Linked DNA regions of Homo sapiens. The protein of the gene in region 6 interacts with the protein of the main gene of each other region in a pairwise test. Each region holds a gene or a part of one and is shown on either strand. Other genes may lie near its edges. The genes, in order: RBM12, U2SURP, FAM124A, AKAP9, DHX38, RBM10 and NIN.

Region 1 (3,500 bases), on a different chromosome or scaffold from region 6:
GACCCCCAAAGGAACAACTGTTCAAAGCACCCATCTACCCCACCCCTATCCCTCAGATAAACTTGTAAAAAACCACACCGGCCTGGGTGGCGGCTCATGCCTGTAATCCCAGCACTTTGGGAGGCTAAGGCAGGTGGATCACAAGGTCAGGAGTTCAAGACCAGCCTGGCCAAGAGGATAAAACCCCATCTCTACTAAAAATACAAAAAAATTAGCCGGGTATGGTGGCAGGCGCCTGTAATCCCAGCTATTCGGGAGGCTGAGGCAGAGAAGTGCTTGAACCCGGGAGGCGGAGGTTGCAGTGAGCCGAGATGGCACCACTGCACTCCAGCCTGGGCAACAGAGTCTAGCCTGGGCAACTGAGCAAGACTCCGTCTCAAAACAAAAAACAAGCAAACAAAAACACACACACACACACACACACACACACACACACACAATATAGTTGCTACATATATTTTCATATTTCTTAATAAGCTATCTCATTTTATTTTGTATAAAAACGAACTCTCTATTCAAAATCTCTTACCTGATAAAACAAGAGATGAATTTCCTTAACAAGAAGTAGAGGCCAAGTCAATCCTGTGGGCAACCAATTAAAACCAACTTTTAGACTGCAATAGAGAATAAACGGAGGCAAAAATCAATGCAGGAAACACAAAACAACACGCACAGGCCACACTGTACATTACGAAGGCGAGTCTGAAACCACCAGAGTACTTCATTAGAATGCATATCAAAAAAAAAAAAAAAAAGAAAGACACCGTAACAAAATCCCACACATGCTTTTTAGTTGGTATTGCTTTCAAATTTGAGTATCTCAAAATAATTATATATTTACAAGAGTGTCATTAACTTAGCCCAATAACGAATCCACTGAAAATTAAAACAGTCATAAAGCTCAGCTTCACAGCTAATTGCTTTGATCACTTTATAATTAAACCAGTCCAGAAAACTCCGTAACACAAGTCTATTTCCCCAGGTTCTCACCAAATTTGTGATGAAAAGGCACAAGTTCGCACAATAACAATTCTTGGACAACTTAAGATAGCAATTCAAGGGTACTCATGGAAATTACTGCAATTATTCTTTCAATATATTTTATTTTGCACAAAATAGCATCCAACATCACAAAACAAATGAAGTATGAGTTCTTGCTATAAGGACTAATTCCACTGGAGCTCAAAATATTAACAAAATATTAAGGGAAAGTGTTTTTTCCTCTGACATCACAACAGTTCTCAAAAACTTGTAAAATTTAAATAAATAAAATAAAATAAAATTTAAAAACACCCTAAAAATGCCTGACATATTAAGAGTATATCCCAAAATAAAAACAGGTCACTCATCTTTCACTGTCATTTCTTCCAAACTGGTGAGGTTATTAACAAGTCACAAGCATATATGACCAAATGTCTAGACAACTATATTCAAAGGTCATTTTTTGCTTTTTATTTTTTTTCAAAGGTCATGTTTTAATTCGGAGAGAGAAGAAATTTGCCACTGTTCAGTATTAAGATTACCTACGACTACTTTTCCAAATGATGCTCATCTTAAATTAGTATCTTCCAAGACCAAAATACAACTAATGACCTTAATATTCATCGCCAAAAAGTAAAACATATTTCAAAAATCTGTGTGATTTTCTAAAGGACAAACTATTCATCGTCTAGTCAACTACTCAAGTTGCTAAAGAATAGTGAGATGGTTTTACCACAAAAAGCTATGCAAATATGTAATCAACACAATCAAAAGTCTAGAGCATTGTATTAATCTTTTACATGTTGTAGAAATCTAGCCTCTTTTTTTTTTCTTTTTTTGAGACAGGGTATCGCTCTGTCGCCCAGGCTAGAGTGCAGTGGCGCGATCTAGGCTCATTAGGCTCATTGCAACCTCCGCCTCCCTGGGTTCAAGCTATTCTCATGCCTCAGCCTCTGGAGTAGCTGGGACTGACTACAGGCTTGCGCCACCACCCGCAGCTTATTTTTGTATTTTTAGTAGAGACAGGGGTTTCATTATGTTACCCAGGCTGGTCTCTTAACTCCTCACCTCAAGTGATCCACCCGCCTCAGCCTCCCAAAGTGCTGAGATTACAGGTGTGAGCCACCACGCCTGGCCTAGCCTAACTAAGTCTAAGGAGTTTAAAAATTCTTCATTTGAAAGCCATATCTAGTAGTTTAACAGGTCACAAAGGAAAATGTGAAACAGAAAAAAACCTGCTTCAAGTAAAGCAATGAGCAAGAGCATGAAGTACTGTAATATTTATGTACAGGTTTGACTCCAGCAGCCACATAACAGGGTAACTTTCTAGTTTCTAGAACTTGTAATAAACATCTGATCCCTACTGGAGATTCCAATTCAAAAGGTCAGGTATGGGGCCAGGGCATATGCCTGAATATAAGGTAAGAAGGTTCCTCTCAGCCTCTTCCCTTGCAAACTCAAAAGATACCGTATGTCTATCTTGAGAAGGACATATCTGGGGTCAGCCAGTTAAGCTCAAAGGGAACTCACCAGGTCTACTCTCAAAAATTTCTAAAAGGTTACCAGAAATTACCTTTAAAAGGAAGATATTTCTCATTCCACAAGGCAAGGCTGAAAGGCCCAGCTGAATTTGACAAATGCCTAGTTCAAGTTTTATGTGTACAACTTAAAGCACAAAATCAATCCAGATAGAAATTTATGATTCTCTTCTATTTCAGCAAAGAGGAATACCCACCCCACCCCATACCAAGGAAAACCATGCAGAAAGTTGATGCTACAAGTCAGAACTTCACAACCCTTGGTATTATACCTCTTCAAAAGGGAAAGGTAAATGGAAATAGAACTGAAATACTTCTGTGTTGACACCTCACTTTGTAAAAACCACAAGAATTTAACATAAGTGTCACTGTTTTCCAGGAAACTACTATTCCTGTATTCTAAATGTCAGCTAGCGACTGAATGCAGGATTTCAAAAATCCACGCCATTTACCTAAAGCTTTGCTGAACTTTAGAAGGATAAGACTAAAATAATAACTAAACAATAAAACATCTAAAATACATATTCTATCTATACATACAGCATAATGATAGGAAAGGAGAAAATGGGCCTGATTTGTCATTAAAGCCACTGATATACTTCAGAAGATCTAAAACAAGAAGCTGGCTTTAGTATGTTTTCCATTCATATTATCAGGAATTAGTCCTAACATAAAGGCTTGCTTCAACTTGACAAAATACCGGATGCATGCACAAATCACAAGTATCTGCTACAAAAATTTAACATATTATGGCAAGACAGACTTTCGTATTTACTAGCCATTCTAATCACTTGGAATTTCAGAAAAAAATGTCTGACAACAAATCTCTTCATCAAGAAGTCAAGGCACAAACTAAAACGACTATTTTCACTCTTCATCTGGTAGTAAACATCCAAAAGTGAACTTTAACTTTGTTCAGTTATCACTCTTTAATCAACAAGAACCAGGGTACAGCAGAGCTAGGTTCTTCAGATCCAAAAG
Region 2 (3,500 bases), on a different chromosome or scaffold from region 6:
GTGCCAACAGTTTACCCACCAAATGCTTTTGTACCTCCAGCTACACTTGCATTAGTGCAAATGCCAAAATGGTGAAAAAGGCATAAATAATGCCTTAGTATTATTACAAAATAGTTTTGAATTCACAGACCCTTCTCAGAGATTCTCAGTGACTCCAGGGGTCTTCAGACTACACTTTGAACACTGCTGTAATAACATATATTAAAAAAATACTTATTGTAGTATTATCTATCCAAAATGTTACTTGAAAGCTTTAAACAAAAAATATATGCCCATCAACAAAGAAATAACAAACAACTGCACTTCCCCACCACAGAACATTATGATGCCTTAAGAAAGAACAGATTAGAGCTGTTAACAGTTTACCTGCAGGGATTTCCAACATATGTTTTGTGCGGTGAGAAAGGCATATGCATAATGCAATCCCATAGTCAAAGTATAAGTATAGATACGTTATGTATGTACAGATTTTTACACAATAAAAATCATAAGGAAATATACATACTAGGTTTCTAACATCGCTTCAGAGGGCTAAGTTATGCAAGCAGAACATAAAAAAAAAAAAGGAAGGCGCCTAGAAAAAAAAGAGTAAAAGAAAAAAGCACATACAATTGTATTTATTTGTCAAGTAAAATCATTGATGTAGGGATACATATGAGGAGAAGTTAAATTTTAAAGGAAAAAAGACAAAGATTGCCTTCTATACTCACATGTGCATCTGAAGATCCAGATGAATGAACATCTGATGATCTCGTCTACAAGTATCAAAAATAAAAGTCAATAATTTAAAATGTCTTATACTAACAAAACATGTCTCTCGTGTTATACAAACTTAAGAGTTTCCTAACTTCTGGCAATTTCTCCTCAGCTAATAAAACTGAGCAAAGGCAGTCTCTGACTTATGAAAAGATTGTGATACAAAGTAAATGTGTAAGTCATTTCTTTAAAATTCAGCCTGCATATTTCCAAAAATATAATAAACACTAGTGGGATATATATGAGGCAAAATTACCTCTTTATAGTATACACTGGAAACCTAACCACCATTTTTACACAGTTTTATGCAAAAGCTCTTCCTAATCATAGATGCATCGTTTACTGCCACAGCACTGCCCAGCAACTTCTTGGTCCACAGCACGAGAACTCTCTTTCTCTAATCACCCAAAGCCACATAAAGAAATCCACATATAAATCCTTGCTGTCTATTAAAAGGTACAAATTCTGCAAAGTTCCAGAAAATATTATCAAATCCCCAATAAGGCACCATTTACAACTCGTTTTAAGGGAGATGATTCGATAGCATGTCACAGGCTGCCTGGTGGCATGAGAAAGAGTTCATATAATATCTTCCAGTGATGTCAACTGTTAAAACTTCAACTTTTCTTAAGTGATCTACCTATCAGATTATACATGGTATGCAATAACTTGTTGCCACTACACATGTAAAGACAAAGATGACAAGCTGTAGGACGATTAACTAAATAATGTATGCTATCTTTCTGAAAGAAAGATTCTCCAAGAATTTTTACTTGGGGATCCAAAATATAACTGTCACTGAGCTGTTTTTATTTTTGAGGGTATACGGTAGTGAAATTTTACTTGTTTTTATTTATATATTTAAGTGTCAAATGTTCAAATGAAATCAAGAATATTGAGATCACAAATATCTCACCTGACCCCAACTCCCAGACAAGATGTCATATAAAGTACAAGATAAAATATTAGTTTAAGAGAAAAACTGAAGATTCATGTTATTTAAAAAAGAGCAAAGATCCATACAGTATTGTTTTATTTACATTGTCCAGACATAAGGCTAAGAACAGCTGGTAAGATTTTTACACTGAATCAATTTACTCCTCTGAACTCCACTGTATTGCGCATTAGCATAGGCAAAAATCAGCCCAGGACAACAGGACAACCAAGCACTGGGACCCCTCCCATCTCATTCTTTCTTTCATTTTTTTTTTTTCTTGAGACAGAGTCTTACTCTGTCTCCCAGGCTGGAGTACAGTGGCGCGACCTCGGCTCACTGCAGCCTCCGCCTCCCGGGTTCCAGTAATTCTCCTCCCTCAGCCTCCTGGGTAGCTAGGAGTACAGGCACGCACCACCATGCCTGGCTAATTTTTGTATTTTTAGTAGAGACGGAGTTTTACCACGTTGGCCAGGCTGGTCTCGAACTCCTGACCTCAGGTGATCTGTCCACCTCAGCCTCTGAAAGTGCTAGGATTACAGACATGAGCGACCGCACCCGGCCCCATCTCACTCTTTCTGTCCATGGTTTTTCTGTCCCCAACTTTTGTGTCCACCCTGATTTTCTTCTAGCGGCTAATCTTTCTTAAATGTCAAGGTGGTATAAAAGAAAATTTTTAGTATTTATTAACTATGAAACACACCCTGAAACATATCTTGAAATGCATAAATTTACAAATATCTAGAAATTTAAAAATCCAAAAGAATAAATAACTACTCTTACAAAAGAAAAACAAGTTCAGGCAAGAGGCTGAAGGGACTGAAAAAAATCAACTGCCTGGGCCAGGTGCAGTGGCTCACGCCTGTAATCCGAGCACTTTGGGAGGCCGAGGCGGGTGGATCAAGAGATGGAGACCATCCTGGCCAAACCTGGTGAAACCCCATCTCTACTAAAAATACAAAAATTAGCCAGGCGCCTGTAGTCCCAGCTACTCGCTGAGGCAGGAGAATGGTGTGAACCCGGGAGGCAGAGCTTGCAGTGAGCTGAGATCGCGCCACTGCACTACCGCCTAGGCGACAGAGACTCCATATCAAAAACAAACAATAGTAACAAAAAAAACTCAATTGCCTTCCAATACACCAGTATTAACTTGCTAAGCAACAAAAACATCCTAATCATAAAAGCAACAAAAAATATAAAAACATCTAGAAACCAATTTAAGAAATGTATATAACCCTTGTGAAGAAAACAAAAACTTCGAGAAAAATCCAGTTACTCAAGCCACCTTTTCAAAAGATTCATATTACTGGATGGGAAAATTCAATATTAAGATAATGTCAATGACACCTAAATTTCTTTACATATTTAATACAATTTCATTCAACCGCTCTAAATTCCAAAGGGAAATATTTGCAAGGGGGCAAAAGAATTGCCAAAACAATTCTAAAGTTCACCCAGAAAGAATAAGCATCCAAAAGAATAACTAAGAAAGCGCTACCCTTTCTGTAGTCTTTGATGCCACCACATCCAAATCATCATTTCTAGGATTTAAAAACAAAAGATACAAGAACCTAGGCATTCTGCCTATTTCCATATAGTTAACTCTTCCCTGACTCCAAGTCATCAAAAGATGAAGCTCTATAATCTTCAAGGATCTCACTTGCGTAACCATTCACCAAATTAAATAATCTCTAATACAAAAATAATCAGTTCAAAAGTAACAATTTTGTCAGCTTTCAAAATTACACAATTTGATAAATTTGCAAACAGAGCAGTAACAGCATAGTGTAGCACAATGCACCGGTGTAGG
Region 3 (3,342 bases), on a different chromosome or scaffold from region 6:
GCCCTCAGACCCGGAGGCTCAAGGAGCAGCCACTACTAAAACCCAATTTATTCAAGCACACATCAACCCTCCCATGTCACAAAAGTCTCTGCAGTGGCTCACCCACTGCTTCCACCAGTTCCTCTTATGCTCCTTTTAACCAGTTGAGGTGACCCAAGATGATTTCTGTAGGACTTGCCAGGTGAGTTGGGGACAGACAGAGAAAGATTTGCTCTTTAAAGCAGACACTAGGTGGTGTTTAGTGTAGGCCAAAGTGGGACCGTGAGCAGTAATTTGGGGTTGAGGGGATCTTACTTGGAAAAGAGGCAAATGAGGGATGGGATGTAACTCAACCAGAGCACTTACCAACACATCCCCTCCCTGGCAATGCTGGAGGAAGCGTAAGGCCAAGGAAACAAGAGACACGGTTCCATTAAGCGACAAAAAACCAGGGCTACAATCTAGACTTCTTACACTACAGAGCCTAATACATAGATATAATTTATGAGACAACCTCAATATTTTTCAATTGAACACATTTATTGAGCACCTACAATGTGCCAGCATCTTTTACAAGGATAATACTCCAAACGAGTCAGGATCCTCCAGAGAGTATTGGAAGCCCTTCTGGATGAGGAAGATGCTACTGGAATGGCCAGGAATGGAAGGGAAGGCTTTGGTAAATGTGTTCCTGTGATTCCCTCTCCGTGGAGGGACTGCCATTTCCATGTGGTCTACAGTGGGCATCCTCTCCCTGCTCACCTGATGCTATGGGAACATTTTGCATTTCTTGCTTTCAAATGTTGTCTATGATGTCCTTTAGGGTCACTCAGTTTGGTAGATTGGACTGTGATGAGGGCGGGTCCAGAGTTGTACTCTAAAGCAGTCCTAGGCGAGCATGTGAGCACACTGAAATAAGGACACTGATTAGGGAGAAAGAAGGAGCCAGCCCTCGGCCATTAGCCTTTTTTTTTTTTTTTTTTTTTTTTTTTTGCCTCACTGACTTTTGTTACTGATGAACTTGCTTCCCTGTTCATTGGAGGTGGTATCATCACCTCTGAATTATTTTTCTCCTTCTTCCTAATGTTTGCAGGTTGCTTTTCCTCATCAGCTATTGACTGAATCACATTTCTGGGCAGAAGGTGGAGTGCTGGTGGCTTTCCAGGAATCAGCTCTGCAGAAAGAAGCTCCTTCCTGTTCTGAGCCCTGTGGTTCTGAAGTCATTGGTCTAACCTGAGTAGCCCACTTTTTTGGCATGACACACCACAGCAGCATTAGGCGGGAGACTTAGAATTTTTGTTGTTGACTGGAGCTGGGATGTTGAATCAACCTCAGGCAGCAGCCTAGCTCAAGGGATAATAAACTATGACCCTTGGGCCAAATCTGGCCCACCAGCTGTTCTTGTAAATAAAGTTTTATTGGCTGGGAATGGTGGCTCATGCCTGTAATCCCAGTGCTTTGGGAGGCCAAGGTGGGTGGATCACGAAGTCAGGAGTTTGAGACCAACCTGGCCAACATGGTGAAACTCTGTCTCTACTAAAAATACAAAAAATTAGCCAGGCATTGTGGTGCGCACCTGTAGTCGCAGCTACTTGGGAGGCTGAGGCAGGAGAATGGCTTGAACCCAGGAGGCAGAGCTTGCAGTGAGCTGAGATTGCGCCATTGCACTCCAGCCTGGGCAACAGAGCAAGACCCCGTCTCAAATAAAAAAAAAATAAAGCTTTATTGGAACTCAGCCATTCCCATTCATTAACATATTACTCATGGCTGCTTTCATACTACAGTGGCAGAGTTGAGTAGCTGCAAGAGACCATATGACTGGCAAAGCCTAAAATACTTATTATCTAGCCCTTTTCAGAAAGTTTGCTTACTCCTTATCCTGAATTAGGAGACTATATTTTTAAAAATTTAAATTAGAGCAGAATATTACATTACAATTCTGAGTGTTAGAGAGTCCAGAATGCTTGGGGCAAGGCCTAAGGCTGTCATTACAAGGATGGCAAAGACTTGAAGCTTCAGCTGAAGACTGATGGTTGGTAACTGCTGCCTGGAGGGTCGTGTTGGAAAGGACTCTGAGGCTGTGTCTGGGCTGGCGTGGGCATTTCCAGAGAGATGAACACTGTGCCATGATTAATTCAAGGAGCACCAGCCTGGGAATTGAGCTTGGCAAACCCATGCTGTTCTTCCTCAAAGGTAAATAGTATCCAGGGACAGCTTGGCACTGCCCCCGATGCCAGCCTTTGGCATTGCTGAGGTTGGGGCTGTAAACAAACATACTCTTACTGAGGTGAGAGGGAGGTGAGATTCAAATACCATTCACGGTGTGACAGTAGCAGATAACAGGCAGGAAAAGCCAAGGTTGCTGGGCTCCAGCGTTAATTAAAGCTCCCATGCAATCATGTGAGGCTGGCAGTGCACTGGTGTTTGTTCAGGAGAGCGTTTCAGGTAAAGTTTCCCGTTTTGGGGAGAACAGCATTATTAATCTGTGTGATCAAAATGCTGGCTAAAATGTTCCAAATCATTTAAAAATGAGAAACATAGGATGCGTGACCCAGCATGGTCACTGCAGAAAGCAGTATACAGTGCGGCTCTTGTCATTTGAATATAGTCCTTAGACTGTGGTTTTTGAAAGTTGAAGGATCTTAAGACTACCTACCCATGATGTCTAATGGCCTATAATTCTGTAATCCCAACAAATGCTCTTCCTCAGTGATCCAAATAAATTCAGGTAGTGGAGTGGTCTTCAGAAGCCCCTCATCCATTCCAGTGAAATGTGCTGTTGAAAAGGTGTATGCAAATCTACTTTCTGGAACTCACATATTTTAAATGCACCAAGAGTCTGTTACTCATGCTAAATCTTTATGAAACACATTAGCAACTTTTGTATAAATCCAGATTTGCAGGTGTTGCATGGCTTCAAGATGAGGAATTACCTGTAGTCTGATATACGTTTACTTCTCAAGCTGACTTTTTCCATTATAAGCAGTGCTTAAACATCCCTAGGGCCACTGTTCTCTGGTAATGTAAATATATATGGAGAATCCAGTAAGGTGTGCGTTACGTTATTATGCAGTAATCCCTCATACAAGTCACTTACTATCTCTCCCACATTCAACGTTTTGGCCTTAATTGATTTGCCTTCATACCATGGAAAAATTGCCAAATTGGTTCTGGCTGACTAGGTTTTCTTTTCATTTCAAATAATTATATAAGCCATTTAAATTGTATAAACCCACTAAACCATACCTCAAATGCTGAATATTCAAAAAATATATTTTATGACAAGTTTGTTGAGAATTTATTTGCATAAAAATGCCAGTATTTTTCTGCTGTGTCTCTAGAGATATACCACCCCCCAGCTAA
Region 4 (3,500 bases), on a different chromosome or scaffold from region 6:
CTCCCAAAGTGCTGGGATTACAGGCGTGGGCCACCGCGCCTGTCCTAGTTTTTCTTTTAACAAGAGTTTATTTTTTATAAGTGGTATATTTTTATAAAAACCTTCTTGTATAAATTGTTAGATGTAAACAGAACACCATATTTAGTAAATTAGCAATCAGCTTAGTTTCTTGGGGTATTTAAATGAAACTAATAAAATACAAAACTAACCTTGAGAACTTCAACATCTTGAGGGCTTCTTTTCTTTTCTTTCTCTCTCTGTTTTTTCTCATTGCCCTCCAATAGCTTCTGTAGTTCTAGCAGCTTCTTTTCTTTTTCTAAAACATTTTTTTCTGCAATTTCTACTTGTTCTTTTTCTAAAATCAAACTAGTATGCATTTCAACAACCTGGCTTTCTAATTCTGATATTCTCAAGGTTAATGCTGATATATCTGACCCCAACTCATCTTCTCTTAGTTGATTTAAATTCTGAATATTTGTTCTTTCAGGTTCTGATGAAATTGTTTGATTATCTTGACAGAATTTTGCATATTCCTGAACTGCCTCAAGTTGGATTTGACTGACAAGAGCAGCAGCCACTTTTTCTTCAACTATTTTCTGTAGGTTTACAATCTTCTTTTGAAGCATTTCTGTTTCAAACTGGCCTTGTTCTTGCATGTCTTTTATTTGTTTATAACACTGGGTAAGTTCTAAGTCCTTTGCACTAACAGTGCTCTCAAGTTGTAGCAACCTTGTTTCCAAATTAATTATGGAACCTTTGCCATTTTCTTCAAAAGATTTGAAGTATGTCTGATTTTCTAGGGATTTAAGAGCATCCTCTGTAAGGACTACTTCTAGTTCAGGTTTGTCTTTGCTCAGATGATCTATAGCCACGTTAACACTATTCTCTGGTATGCTTTGAATCTTTTCCACACTTTCACGTTCTCTCTTTAAGCTGAATAATTCCTGTGTTAGCTGATTCATTTTAAAATTGGTTTCTTTAAGTACATTTTTCATGAAGGTCATTTCTTCATTAGCGGTTTCTACTTGCTGTTCCAAGGCCAGCTTTTCAGCTATAACCACATCCAATTGATGTTTTAAACTGTCTGCTTCTTCTGAGAGGGAATGAGCATTCATTGATGTCTTCTGTCCAATATTTGCCAATTCCTGTTGAAGTTTTTCAATCACTTCATTGAGCTGCTCTATTTCTTCTTCTCTATTTCTCTTCACACATTCTTGATCACTCATCAAACATTCTATTTGGGTTTCAAGATCCCTTATCAGTTCATTTTTTTCTTCAATAACCTAATAATTAATGAAAAAGGTAACATACATAATATATATGTATTTACATTTTGAAAATTTTACTTTATTTTAGGGCAGTACCTCAAAGAGATGATCACACACAAAAATAATACACTACTTCTCAGACATACTACTTAATTTCATTATAGACCAATATCTCCCCCATCATATCAAACAAGGCTCAGAAAGTTCTGTTAAGTATAAAGTAATATAAGCTTTTAGTTGCTGATTCCCTATTAGGAAAATAGTCAATATCAATACTTCTTAATGGAAAAGGATGAAGTACGGAAATAAAGTCTACAACCGATGGCACCAAAGGTAATTACCTTACTTAACTCATATTAAATATTATAATTTATAATAGATTTGGTTAGAATAACATGATAAAATCTAAGTCACAGAGCCTTTCTGAAAAACATTAGAATCCTATGACAATATTAGGAGGGGAGAAAAATACATATAAATTATTAAACCAATGTGTCTTTGCTTTTTTTTTTTTTTCTTTTTGAGACAGGGTCTCACTCTGTCACCCAAGCTGGAGTGCAGTGGCATGATGAGGCTCACTGCAGCTGGGACTACAGGTGGTATGCCACCATGTCCAGTTAATTTTTATATTTTTTGTAGAGACAAAGTTTCACCATGTTGCCCAGGCTGGTCTTGAACTCCTGGGCCCAAGCAATCCGCCCACCTAGGCTTCCTAAAGTATAAGGATTACAGGTGTGAGCCTCTGTGCCTGGCCACCAATGTGTCTTAATAAATTAAAATTAATAAAAGAGAATTGGGCCAGGCGTGGTGGCTCATGCCAGTAATACCAGCACTTTGGGAGGCTGAGGTGGGTGGATCACCTGACATCAGGAGATAGAGACCAGCCTGGTCAACATGGTGAAACCCCATCTCTATTAAAAATACAAAAAATTAGCCAGGTGTGATGGTGGGTGCCTGTAATCCCAGCTACTCGGGAGGCTGAGGCAGGAGAATCACTTGAACCTAGGAGGTGGAGGTTGCAGTGAGCCGAGGTTGCACCATTGGACTCCAGCCTGGGCGACAGAGCGAGATTCTGTCTCAAAAAAAATAAATAAAATAAAATAAAATAAAATAAAATTGGTTTGTTTTTTAAATTCAATGGGGAGCAACATTATAACCATTTTGCCCTTTAAAACTCTGGTTCATATTAATTTCATAATCAATTTTAAATGAGTATACCTTGTTATCTGTTGTAATTTTAAGTTGCTGCTGGAGTTTCGTAACTTGTTCATTTAATTGGTCAATTTCTACCTCTTTTTCCTGTATTATTTGAGCAAATTTCCCAAATAGCACATGTTGGTCTTGAGTAGACATGGCATCAGATTCCTTTATGGCAAGTCCCAGTTTCTCCATGTCATCCTAGGAACAAAAATAATTATCACAGTTGGATATATCATTACCTATCATTTTCAGAACATAATTACAAAAGAAATCAGAGCCTATAACGTACAAATGAATAAAATCAGAGACACCATATGGTTACTGTAAATCAATAATTCTAAAATATTTTGATAAATGATCCCAAAATTTTCATTTATGATGAATTCAAATGTTCAGGTTGGGCTGAAAATAAGCTGTATGCAAATGTGTCTGCCTGTTAATGTTCCTCTGTTGAGTATTATTTAACAGCTGGATTTATCGAATGCTTAATAAAGCAATATAGGGGCCAGGTGTGGTGGCTCACGCCTGTAATCCCAGCACTTTGGGAGGCCAAGACAGGCGGATCACGAGGTCAGGAGATCGAGAGCATCCTGGCTAACACGGTGAAACCCCATCTCTACTAAAAATACAAAAATTAGCCAGGCGTGGTGGTACGTGCCTATAGTCCCAGCTACTCGGGAGGCTGAGGCAGAATTGCTTGAACCAGGGAGGCGGAGCTTGCAATGAGCCGAGATCACACCATTGCACTCCAGCCTGGGCAACAGAGTGAGACTAAGTCTCAAAAAAAAAAAAAAAAAGAAAGAAATAATAATAATAATAATAATAAAGCAATATAGGACTGAAACTATGACTTATTTACAGATAAAAGTTTTTCTTAACTAATTACCTTAAATAATTTGTTTTCCTGTTCAAGTTCTTGTAGGCGGGTAGTAGATTCCTTTTTCTGTATTTCTAATTGCATATGTAATTGTTGAACTTCTTCATTCTTATTTTCCAGTTCTTCTCTAAACTGTTCTAATTGCTCTTCTAAGT
Region 5 (3,500 bases), on a different chromosome or scaffold from region 6:
GTGCTCCACATGGCTGCCTGCCCCAGTACCAAAGCCGCCTTCTCTTCTGCAGCTGAGGCCTGCTTTTTTCACTGACTCAAGACACTGGACAATCAGTCCTAACTCAGTCATCCCTCAGTCCAGGAAGTACTTACATTTCCTTCTTTTTTGAAAAATCAAGTTCACAACTATGCTAGGAAGTACAGAAAAACAGGGAAGATGTGATTACCTGCTGGCTGGAAGAGACAGGCATAAGATGCAAGGGAGCCTGGTATGGGGAGAATTATGCTACGAAAAGGGGTAAGCCAAAGCCCAGCACCATTTTGCAACCCTAAATATGGATCTAGGCAATGGCCATCAACAGACGCTAAAACCTCAAGATGGAGGAGCAGTGGAAACCTATCAGGGAAGAGGCAGGCTGCCACCACTGGGGCCCCTCATCCATCCTCCCATCAGCAAAGGTGGGGCCACCAGACCTCACATGCCTCCTGAAGGCATCTAAGAGGAGGTTCACAGTGCCACATGCAGGCATCTCTGCCACACGCAGCTCAGCCGGGATCTAATTGAGCGGTTGGACTCATCGCCAGCTTACAGCAAGTGCACGAAACACAGGCACAGGTTAAACACCGCTGTGAGCAAGCAATGAGGCAAATACATCATATGGACTATTCGACAGGACAAATGACCTGGCTGCTCCAATAAATCAATGTCATGAAAAAAAGCGTGGGGTGGAGCCTGTTCTAGAATGAAACAGTTAACACACATAAGCAGTTGCAATGCCTGGATCCTAATTCAAGCAAATCGATCATAAGAAGTTATCTTTGAGATAAATGGAGAAATCCAAATGCGGACTGGAGACTTAGGTGACATTAAGTATTCATTTTTTTATGAGTGATAACGGCACAGAGGTTATATTTAAAATTTTAAGTCCTTTTAGTCAGAGACACATACTCAAGTATTTATGGATGAATAATGTATGAGATAAGCTTTAAAATATTCCAGAAAAAAAAAATGGATGTGTGTGGAGTGGGGTAGGAATAGTGAAATTGAACAAACGTTGACAATTATAGAGGCAAGGCAACGAATTCATGGTGGCCTGTTGTACTGTTTTTCCCACTTTCATGAATATTTGGACTTTTCAATAATGAGTTTTTTGGTTTTGTTTTTAAAGGCTCAGCCTACCAAACAACTGGAGTGGGTGGTGGGGAATCAGACAGACCCAGCCTGCTGGATCACAGCCTTTATGTTTGCAGAGAGAAGTAAGTGGGTTGGATGACCGCAAGTCTTCAATACCAAGCGGAGGGAACACCGACCCCACAGGCAAACAGCACCCCTGCGAAGAGCACAGAATCCTCACCTGCCGTGACTTGCCCGCCTGTTTCACGCTATAGAACATGGGGCCCAGCTCCGCCAGCCACTCCCCGTCCACAGCGGTCACACACTGCATATACTCCTGCGGGCAGAAGGGCAGGGAGGCGAGGGTCACAGGAGGGCCAATGTCCCTCCCAGAGTGGTTCCACAATTAGGAGCCACATGGGAAGGGCCCAATCCCTGGCCCTGCAAGGCTGAAAAAAGGAAAGGAAAAACCCCAGATACTCCCATCCAAACTCCTCCACACTTGAGAAAATGCCCCCAGTATCTAAAAGAAAAGGCCCAACCCCTCCGAAAATCCTTCTAATGACACCAAGAGGGGTTGCTCATCCCAAGCAGCAAGTGGGGAACAATCGTGCCCATGCAGCTGAGGTCAATGCAGTCTAGAGGTCAACCCTGTGCAGAGCTTCCCCAAGTCCCCAAATGAAAACCAACCTCACATGCCCCGCAAAACAATGCATGTGGCCTCAAGGCTCCCAGGCTAAAAGCTCATGCCAGAACGCAGTGAAGGGTTTCAAAGCCTGGCCAGACAGGGGGCCTGCATTATGCAAGTGCCTTGGAAAAGACTCACCTTGGTGGTCATGACCAACTCGTGATACACTATGTAATCTGGGGTGTAGCCCATTCCAAAAAGGGAGCTGGTGGGGTGCAAGTGGCAGGGCATCCCTGTGCGGATGTTCACGTACTCCCCGATTCCCTAGGGAGGAGACACAACAGGCAGCCACATCAGGAAAACAACACCCATTTGGGCAGCGACCCCATCCCTTAACACTCTTGACACAGCCTTTGGCGGAAGCCCAGATCTGCAGAACCACACCAGGACAAAGGAAGAACTTTGCCCTTATACAGGTATCAGGCTGGGAGGGGCTCACTGGGCTCCTGGGTTCACCTTGAGCTTGGCTGCTTGGTGGAAATAGGCAGCACAGATGCACTTCCTGACGATGTCCCAGTCAGTGCCACACGAGGCCAGGCTCATCCGCTGCTGCACCATGATGTCCTTGAGTTGAGCTCGCACCTCCCGGACCTAGGGCAGGAGACGGAGGCACCAGGAGGGAGCCCTCCTTTCCTCTCGACCCTCCCCTCATCCCAACATCCTGCTCATCCACCACTCTACCTTCCGCATGGCCTTAGCATGGATGAAATGATCGTTACACCAGATGGTGGAGTAATTATTGTTCTTCCACTGCAGGTAAACATTCAGGTAGGTCAAATGATCGCTCTCAGGAACAGCGAACTTCTCCCGGATTTGATCACTCTCCTCCTCTCGACCCTAGGAAGGGAAAAAGAACCTTCACTCTAAGTACAGGGGGGTCCAGGCCCACTGAGCACATCCCAGAGGTTCTAACACTACCACCTACCCACACATAGAACTTCAAACATGTCAATAGGTTGCCCTGACAATTTGAGAAAAATTAAAATAATTTTTAAAAAGGTCTACTCTAAAACATGAGGGCTCAAGAGCAACCATACTAGAAGATAAAAAATGCTCTTGCAAATTTCCAAAGCATTCCCTGAGAACCACTGGCCCAGCCCTTCCTTTCCCCTACCCCAACCTGCTTAACCGAGAACAGCAAAATCATTCTTCAGAAACTCTGATTCTGCCCTCTGTTCCATTTCAGTAATACAGAGAGAAGCCATTCCCCTCCCCAACACTTCCTCGAGCCCTCCGGGGAGAGGGGAGCCAGCCGCTGCCCCACCTTGGGCCTGTAGAAGATGGCTGGGACCGAGAGCATGGAAACGATGAGCAGGATCTCGGAGCTGCAGCCCATGTCACAGGACACGATGAGCATCTTGGACAGGGCAGGGTCCAGCGGGAACTCCACCATCAGCCGCCCGGTAGAGGTCAGACCACCTAGGAGAGATGAGCAAACCCGGATATTTGACGGGACAGTAGAGGAAAGAAGGAAGTCAAGCGCCAGCACCCATGAGGCTCCCGGGGCCGCCTCACCTGTGTTGTCCAGGGCCCCGAGGATCCAGAGCTGATACATAGAGTTGAGCATGTTGTCCTCCGGGGGCGGGTCCATGAAGTGGAACTGCAGCAGGTCCTGCACCCCGAGGGACTTGAGCAGCAGCACCACGTTGGCCAGGTTAGTCCTCTGGATCTCGGGCACTGTGGTGGTCAGGAGCTCATTCTTGTAGGCGCTCTGGGT
Region 6 (4,093 bases):
TGGCCTTGGATTTGCAGGCCAAGCTCCACCTCCACCCCTCTGTCATCAGCCTGTTGAGGGCTCTGGGCCAACTGGAACCTGAGTACCTCTTGTATTCTACTTGGAGATGCCTGAGGGCATTGTCTCCAGATCTAGGGATGGCAAAATGCAGTTTAGCCTTGGGACTGCAGGCTAAGTAAAGCCAGGGGGCAGCAAGGACAGGGGATGGGGGTTCCCAGTCCTAGCTCTGATCAGGGGGCGCTTCATGCCTGGTGGTGCTAGATTTCCTGGTACAACATAACCTGCTGGAACCAACAAGGGAGAGGGGCCATAACCAGGATATTATGGGTCGGGGTACAGGTCAGAACCCCATGTTCTAGTAGCCATTATGTTCCAGACACTGAATGCCACCACTGCCATCCACCTTGGCCTGATAAGGTCCCCTGTCCATCTGCTTGGGTCCCCGTGTCTGTATAGGCTATACAACTGTGCTAGAGCACGAGAAAGAGGAGAGGCCAACATGCAGACTTTTCAGCTTTTATTACAAAACAGGACGTGATCCCAGCCCAATTTTCCAACAAAAGTCACCACCTCAATTTGATTTGGTCAAGCCCTCTCTGGCTGGGGAGTGGGCTGGCCGACAAGAGCAAGGCCCCGTCCCAGCCATCCAACACTCTGTCCTTCCCTGCCCCAGGATGGACACCCAACATGTGGAGAAGTTGCTCTTGAAGCTGCTCACTGGGCCTCGTTGAAGCGGGTCACCATTGTCTTGTGCAGTGTCTCCTTGTAGGACTCGGTTGAGGTGACCCCGTAGGAGCTGCCCCGTGCACCCAGGCCGGAGCCCCGCACCCGTGTTTGGGCCTGTGTGAGGGAGGCAGGCTCTGTCAGGCTGGTGGGGGATGCTGTGAGGGGTGCTGGGGGATGGGACAGGACTGCCTGAGACTCACCTCGATAGGCGTTACAATGCCCTGCTTCTTGCGGCCCAGGCCGCTGCCCTCTTTCCAGCCCATGGCCTGCAGCATCCGACTGCCAATGTTGTCACTGCCCAGCCCGTCCCGAGTAGGCTGCTCGAAGTCTCTGCAGGGGCGGTGCACAGCATGAGTGGTCGGCCTGCCGGCCCCGGCCCCGGGCTCCAGACCCCCTCACCTGGCCCAGCCACTCACACAGAGGCTGTGGATATGCCGCCGTACTTCCTCCTCTTGGGCTCTGGCGGCTCGGGGATGCCATACTTTTCTCTGCGTTCAGCTGCACGGTCCCGGTACTTCATTTGCTGAAAGTTTGTATGTGTATGTGAATGTTGGGGAGCTGGTCTCTTTTCTCAGGCAACACAGGCATGGGGAGTGGGGTCCCACAGGGCATGCCATCTGGCTAATGAGGCTCAGGTCCTGAGGGTCAGGCCATCACAGGCACAAGCAGCCAGGATAGGAAAATGGGGAAGAAGGCTCACGGGGTTAACACGTGAGAAATTGAACTCCAGCTGCCTGAGGTGATGGGGACTTGGAAGGGACACAGGGGAGGGAGCCCAGGGTCAGGTCACACCTCACCTCCATGTCATTCTTCTCTAGTGCTTCTAGCTCGTTTTCTGACAAGTGGGCTCGCCGGTGAATCTCAAGGTTTTGCTGCAAGAGGGACAGGATGAGAAGTGAAGAGGATGAGCCTCAGTGGGCCAGGCCCCAGCATGCCCTGCCAACCATCCGCTGTTACCTTGTGGAGCCCTGAGAGCTGCTGGTGCCGGATGAGCGCCTCTTTGCTGGGGAACTGGCGTCGGCAGAGCAGACAGGCCAGCTTCTGCCAGTCGGTGAGCTTCTCCTCCCGCTCAGGGCCCCCACGCTCCTGCTCCTCCTCACTGTCACTCTCCCCGCTGTAGGCTGCCACCAGTCCTCGCGGAGGGCTCTGTAGAGGGTGAGGGTGGGCGGTCAGGCCTGGCCAGATCAGAGCCCCCGCCCCTCTCTGCCTTGGGCACTCACTGGGCGGTCGTCACTGGCCAATTTCGGGAGATCCATGCTGGTGTGCTGTCTCTCGGCTAGTGCTCCCTGGGGTGGAGGGACACAGAAATTCAGGGACTCCACAGAGGGCCCAAAGGAAGGACAAGATTGTGGGGCAGGGTGCAGGGGGGTGGCCCCAACACACCTTCTTCTCGAGGATGGCATAGCCAGCATCTGCAGTGGCTGACTCCCGCCTCTCGTCATCTCGCAGGGAGCTGATAGGCTGGAAGCTATTTTTGAAGTTTTCTTTTTGTTTGTTGAGACTGCGGGCCCAGCGTTCCATGTCCTTGGCAATCTGGGGGTGAGGGTGGAGGTGAGGTTCCCAGAACCCTCATGACCCTGGGGCTACTAACTCTATCTGCTGACCCACTGCCCTGCATCCTCAAACACGGGCCAGCCACTATCCCTAGTCCGAACCACTGCAGAAGGCTTCATCTGGCCTCTGGGCTACGGCTCCTGACCACCTTTCCCAGCAGAGCGCTCTTTCATGAAGTATAAGCCACTCCCACCCCCAAATACAATGTCCTTAAAACCCTTCCTTCGCCTCCCATCACACCAAGAATAAACCCAAACTCGCAACCACAGCCTGCAAGGCACTTGGCACCTGGCTACTCCTGACCTCATCACTGAACACACCCTGTGCCCCCACCCCCACTGGTTTGCAATGGTGAGGTGGCAGAAGCAGTGTGGACAGAGTGGCGGGCCCATCTGGGAGGCAGATGAGTGGAAGCTGAGGCAGAACAATCAGAAGGTGAGGGACACAGTAGTGCAAGTTCCTATTTTCTGTCACCAGTCACCAGTGCTTCTTGCCAAGCCCCTCTCTGGCTGTGTTCTCTGCTATGTTTTTTGTCCCTCAAAGTTCATGTGTCAGAAATGTAATCCCTAATGCAACAGTGTTCACAGGTGGAGCCTTTATCCCGGCTGAGTGCAGTGGCTCACACCTGTAATCCCAGCACTTTGGGAGGCCAAGGCGGGTGGATCACTTGAGGTCAGGAGTTTGAGACCAGCCTGGCTAACACAGTGAAACCCCAGCTCTACTAAAAAAATACAAAATTAGCTGGGCGTGGTGGTGGATGCCTGTAATCCCAGCTACTTGGAAGGCTGAGGCAGGAGAATTCCTTGAACCCGGGAGGCGGAGGCTGCAGTGTGCTGAGATTGCACCATTGCACTCCAGCCCAGGCAACAAGAGTGAAACTCCATCTCAAAAGATAAATTTAATCCCTGATGCAACAGTGTTGACAGGCAGGGCCTTTCAGAGGTGATTAGGTCACAAAGGCTCTGCCCTCCTCAAGAGATCGCGGCTGCTTTTTAAAGAAATTGTATAAGTTTATGGGGTAACAAGTGCTTTTGTAGCCAGGCGCGGTAGCTCATGCCTATAATCCCAGCACTTTGGGAGGCCGAGACAGACACATCACCTGAGGTCAGGAGTTTGAGACCAGCCTGGCCAACATGGCGAAAACCCGTCTCTACTAAAATTACAAAAAAATTAGCTGGGCATGGTGGCGGATGCCTGTAATCCCAGCTACTCGGGAGGCTGAGGGAGGAGAATTGCTTGAACCCAGGAGGTGGAGGCTGCAGTGATCCGAGATTGCACCACTGCACTCCAGCCTGGATGATAAGAGCGAAACTCCATCTCAAAAAAATAATAAATAAATAAATAAAATAAACAAGTGCTTTTGTTACATGCACAGATTGTATAGTGCTGAAGTCAGGGTTCTTAGAGCATCCATCAGCCAAATAATGTACATCATACCCATTAAGTAATTTTTCATCCTTCACCCCCTCCCATCTCCTCCACCTTTATATATATATAATATATATATATTTTGAGAAGGAGTCTCGTTCTTGTTGCCCAGGCTGGAGTGCAATGGCACGATCTCAGCTCACTGCAACCTCCGCCTCCTGGGTTCAAGTGATTCTCCTGCCTCAGCTTCCTGAGTAGCCGGGATTACAGGCGCCTGCCACCACGCCTGGCTAATTTTTGTATTTTTAGTAGAGACGGGGTTTCGCCATGTTGGCCAGGCTGGTCTCAAACTCCTGACCTCAGGTGATCTGCCCACCCCAGCCTCCCAAACTGCTGGGATTACAGGCATGAGCCACGGCTCCCGGCCCCCCTCCACCTTTTGAGT
Region 7 (3,500 bases), on a different chromosome or scaffold from region 6:
CACAGGACCTCCTCACGCTCCCTCAGTTCCCTTTTGTGACTGCTCTTCAGCTCAAGTATCTGGTCAGACAGCAGGCTTTGCTGGGTTTCAGATACATTTCTTAGGTCTTCCAGGTCTTGGAGTAGCTGCTGTCTCTCGACGACCATGCTGTTCAAATGTTCTTTGTATGTTTTCTCCAGCATCTCTCTCTCCTGGGTCAGGACCAGAGAAGTTGTTTTCTCTCTCTTAAGAGTCTCTTTCAGCAGCTCCTGGGCTTCCGCACACTCCTGGGTGAGCTCGTCCTTCTCAAATTCCCACTGGGATTTCTCCTCACGCTGCTGTTCCTGGAGGTCCTTCAGCTCTTGGCGGTAGCGCCCCTCCAGGCTTTGCAGAGCGCTTTCACACCTCTCAGTGACTTTCTGACAATCAGACTGAAACTGGGCTTCTATTTGAGAGGTTCTTCTATTACACTCTGTTTCCATTTTTTCCCTAAATATAGTCAACATACAGCATTATTGAAACTGCCGCCAACTCCAGAAGCAAACAAAAACCATTTTCCCATGCACTGAGAAAGCTGCTGAGCAAACAACTGAAATACTCCCTAAAAATGCTCTTAACTTACTCCTATGTGATTCATTTATACTGGAAAGGGATCTCATTTCTGAAAGCTAAGACTGGCAGCCATAATTCATTTAAAAGACTTACCTCTCTCTGGAGTTAGGGGGAAATCTTAGAAACTAATTTCTCTGGCACACTCCCGGATGTATTTGTTTATGGATTTTTAAACCAAAGACAAATGACCAAATGTATATTAATCTAATTCCTCACTTGGGAAATATATACCATTCCTTCATTTTAATTAAGCATGCGTTATAGGATATCAGTCACATAAATGACACATATGAACAAATTCATTCTGCTTTTGCTTCTTACTTAACGAAGTAGCACCAAGTCAATCAGCGTGTGACGAAACAAAGCCCTCAAATAAACCTGGGATTTCACATGAGGAATGTAAGCATGGAGTGCTGTTTCTTAACTCTGGGAGGAAATGTAACCTTGCCTGGAATCCAGTTTATTAATAGCTTTTCTCAGAAAGCAACAGGATTGAACTAGGAAGGAACCACTTTTGGGATAATCTTATCCTCCTCTTGAGCCTTATAAGGTAGAATAAATCTTAATACGAGGAATACTTTCCTCTTTTACAAACATAACAAAATAAAAACAGTTCCAATCATCCCAAGGTAGGTTCACATCAAAATAATGGCAAAAACAGTAAAAAAATATTTAAAAGAGTCTACTCAATCAATGGGCTATTATGCCTTCTGACTTCTTCAAGTCTCTTAAGCGACTGGCACTTTTTTTTTTTTTTTGAGACGGAGTCTCGCTCTGTCGCCCAGGCTGGAGTGCAGTAGCGCGATCTCGGCTCACTGCAAGCTCCGCCTCCCGGGTTCACGCCATTCTCCTGCCTCAGCCTCCAGAGTAGCTGGGACTACAGGCGCCCGCCACCACGCCCGGCTAATTTTTTGTATTTTTAGTAGAGACGGGGTTTCACCATGTTAGCCAGGTCTCGATCTCCTGACCTCGTGATCCGCCCACCTCGGCCTCCCAGAGTGCTGGGATTACAGGCGTGAGCCACCGCGCCCAGCCACAACTGGCACTTCTAATGCCCCGAGGGATGGTGCCCCAGGTAGCTTCATTTCCCTTCACTTTCTTACCTTCCCTCCTGAAGCTCCCTTTGGTGCTTTTCCAAGAGCTCTTTTCTTAACTCCTCTTTCTCAAGAGTGTGTTTCTCCACCAGGCTTGTCAGCTGCTCCTGGTGAAACTGCTCTAGTTCCTGAGTCAAGCCTCTCACCTTCTCTTCTGTCCAGGCGCTACTCTGAAGGCCTTCCCTCTCCCGCTCAAAGCTTGCTTGAGCCTGTGTCAGTCTAGCCTTGAGCTCCATCTCATGTTGCAGCCTCAGCTTCTCCTGCAGGTGAGTCTTTTCCTCCTCAAGCTTCACTTGCAGTTGTTTTTTCTCCTCCTCATGCCTGCAAGTGGCCTCATGATGTGCCTCCTTGAGCACTGCTGCTTGCCCCTGAAGTTCAGCAATTTCATTTTTAAGGTCACTTATTTGTTTTTCTAAGGTGTGCGTTTCGTTCTCATGCCTTTGCTTCATGTTCTCCTGTGCCTTCTTGCAGCTGACCACGGTTTCGTCCAGCTGCTTTTCATAATGGCGCACCTGAAGGCACAGAGTGACACCACCACAAGATTACTCAGCTCAAGGTCACTGAAAGTGAAGTGATGGAGCAGCAATTGCTTTTTTTTTTTTTTTTTTTTTCCCTACAAGACATTTCTCATTTCTCTATCTTGTTTTAAAGTAACTGAATTCAACACTTTAAGCAAGATACTTAAGTCAGGCATGGTTTACATATCTCTTTTAAGTGGCTGAATTTTATTAGTGTCTGAACAACCTTATTAAGAACTGAGCAGCCATTACACATAGCTACCCTCTGTCTTCCCATGCATCCTTTCCAACTGTAAACTTGAGTCTTGGAACATATATATTTTTTGAGACAGGTTCTCACTCTGTCACCCAAGCTGAAGTGCAGTGGCGTAATTATGGCTCACTGAAATCTCCATCTCCTGGGCTCAAGCAATCCTCCCACCTCAGCCTCCTGAGTAGTTGGGACTAAAGGCACACACCACCGTGCCCTAATTTTTTTTTCTTGGTAGAGACGGGGTCTCACCATGTTGCCCAGACTGGTCTTGAACTCCTAGGCTCAAGTGGTCTGCCCACCTCGACCTCCCAAAATGTTGAGATTACAGGCATGAGCCACTGTACCCTGCTGGGTCTTAAAATACTTAATTAAATTCAAATATTAATTGAACACCTATCAGGTACTTGCAGGCCTCGGAATACAACGCTGGGTAAGATATGGTCCCTGCTATCCAGGAGAAACCAGTCTAGACATGGATATGACAACTATAAGTACAGTAGGAGGCAGAAAATAAAAGGTATACAAAAAAGAGCTACAATGTAACCCAGGGACTCAAAGGAGGGAAAAAAATCACATTTTAGTTGGAGAAATTCAAGAATGGCTTCATGCAAGAGGCAGCATTAAATATAAATCCTGAAGGGTAAGTAGACTTTCGAGAGGCAGAAAGAAACTAATATCAGCATAGTTTGTAACAGCACAAGCAAAAGAGGACAGAGTGTGATGGACAACTAGGAACTACCCAATTTAGCTGGAGGATAAGGTAACTCATAAGAACGGTCAGTTGAAGTCTGGACTGGAAACGTCAGTTGAAGTCTCATGGTGAAGAGTTTAGAGGCCAAGGTTCAGAACTTGTACCTAATTTAGTAGGCAATGAAACATCAAAGGGCTTTTTTTGGTTTCACTGAGATGTTTTTAAAAAAGAAATTGGGAGATAATATAATGGGTTTCAAGCTTCAAGTTCCATGATTGCCAGGGCTGAAGATATTACATTTTGGAGAAACTCTCCAGAAAAAAGGGGCCTTGCTGTCAGCCTACAAAACCATC

The links.
Region 1: the proteins of RBM10 (region 6) and RBM12 interact in a two-hybrid assay, tested with the Homo sapiens proteins (one large-scale study listed by BioGRID).
Region 2: the proteins of RBM10 (region 6) and U2SURP interact in a two-hybrid assay, tested with the Homo sapiens proteins (one large-scale study listed by BioGRID and IntAct).
Region 3: the proteins of RBM10 (region 6) and FAM124A interact in a two-hybrid assay, tested with the Homo sapiens proteins (one large-scale study listed by BioGRID and IntAct).
Region 4: the proteins of RBM10 (region 6) and AKAP9 interact in a two-hybrid assay, tested with the Homo sapiens proteins (one large-scale study listed by BioGRID).
Region 5: the proteins of RBM10 (region 6) and DHX38 interact in a two-hybrid assay, tested with the Homo sapiens proteins (one large-scale study listed by BioGRID and IntAct).
Region 7: the proteins of RBM10 (region 6) and NIN interact in a two-hybrid assay, tested with the Homo sapiens proteins (one large-scale study listed by BioGRID).

Annotation. Positions count from the first base shown.
Region 1 is NC_000020.11:35,658,401-35,661,900, forward strand, and holds part of RBM12 (RNA-binding protein 12), read right to left. Parts: intron 615-3,500; 5' UTR 530-614; intron 1-529.
Region 2 is NC_000003.12:143,008,070-143,011,569, reverse strand, and holds part of U2SURP (U2 snRNP-associated SURP motif-containing protein), read right to left. Parts: intron 756-3,500; coding exon 711-755; intron 1-710.
Region 3 is NC_000013.11:51,281,398-51,284,739, reverse strand, and holds the end of FAM124A (protein FAM124A), read right to left. Parts: 3' UTR 501-3,342; downstream 1-500.
Region 4 is NC_000007.14:92,076,862-92,080,361, reverse strand, and holds part of AKAP9 (A-kinase anchor protein 9), read right to left. Parts: coding exon 3,355-3,500; intron 2,667-3,354; coding exon 2,487-2,666; intron 1,284-2,486; coding exon 210-1,283; intron 1-209. UniProt on the Homo sapiens protein: Scaffolding protein that assembles several protein kinases and phosphatases on the centrosome and Golgi apparatus. Required to maintain the integrity of the Golgi apparatus. Required for microtubule nucleation at the cis-side of the Golgi apparatus.
Region 5 is NC_000016.10:72,107,347-72,110,846, reverse strand, and holds part of DHX38 (pre-mRNA-splicing factor ATP-dependent RNA helicase PRP16), read right to left. Parts: coding exon 3,299-3,500; intron 3,203-3,298; coding exon 3,048-3,202; intron 2,621-3,047; coding exon 2,465-2,620; intron 2,375-2,464; coding exon 2,240-2,374; intron 2,048-2,239; coding exon 1,922-2,047; intron 1,433-1,921; coding exon 1,337-1,432; intron 1-1,336. UniProt on the Homo sapiens protein: Probable ATP-binding RNA helicase. Involved in pre-mRNA splicing as component of the spliceosome.
Region 6 is NC_000023.11:47,183,221-47,187,313, reverse strand, and holds the end of RBM10 (RNA-binding protein 10), read right to left. Parts: intron 2,260-4,093; coding exon 2,110-2,259; intron 2,013-2,109; coding exon 1,947-2,012; intron 1,873-1,946; coding exon 1,684-1,872; intron 1,599-1,683; coding exon 1,524-1,598; intron 1,250-1,523; coding exon 1,143-1,249; intron 1,057-1,142; coding exon 927-1,056; intron 841-926; coding exon 715-840; 3' UTR 501-714; downstream 1-500. UniProt on the Homo sapiens protein: Binds to ssRNA containing the consensus sequence 5'-AGGUAA-3'. May be involved in post-transcriptional processing, most probably in mRNA splicing. Binds to RNA homopolymers, with a preference for poly(G) and poly(U) and little for poly(A).
Region 7 is NC_000014.9:50,758,163-50,761,662, forward strand, and holds part of NIN (ninein), read right to left. Parts: intron 2,198-3,500; coding exon 1,695-2,197; intron 469-1,694; coding exon 1-468. UniProt on the Homo sapiens protein: Centrosomal protein required in the positioning and anchorage of the microtubule minus-end in epithelial cells. May also act as a centrosome maturation factor.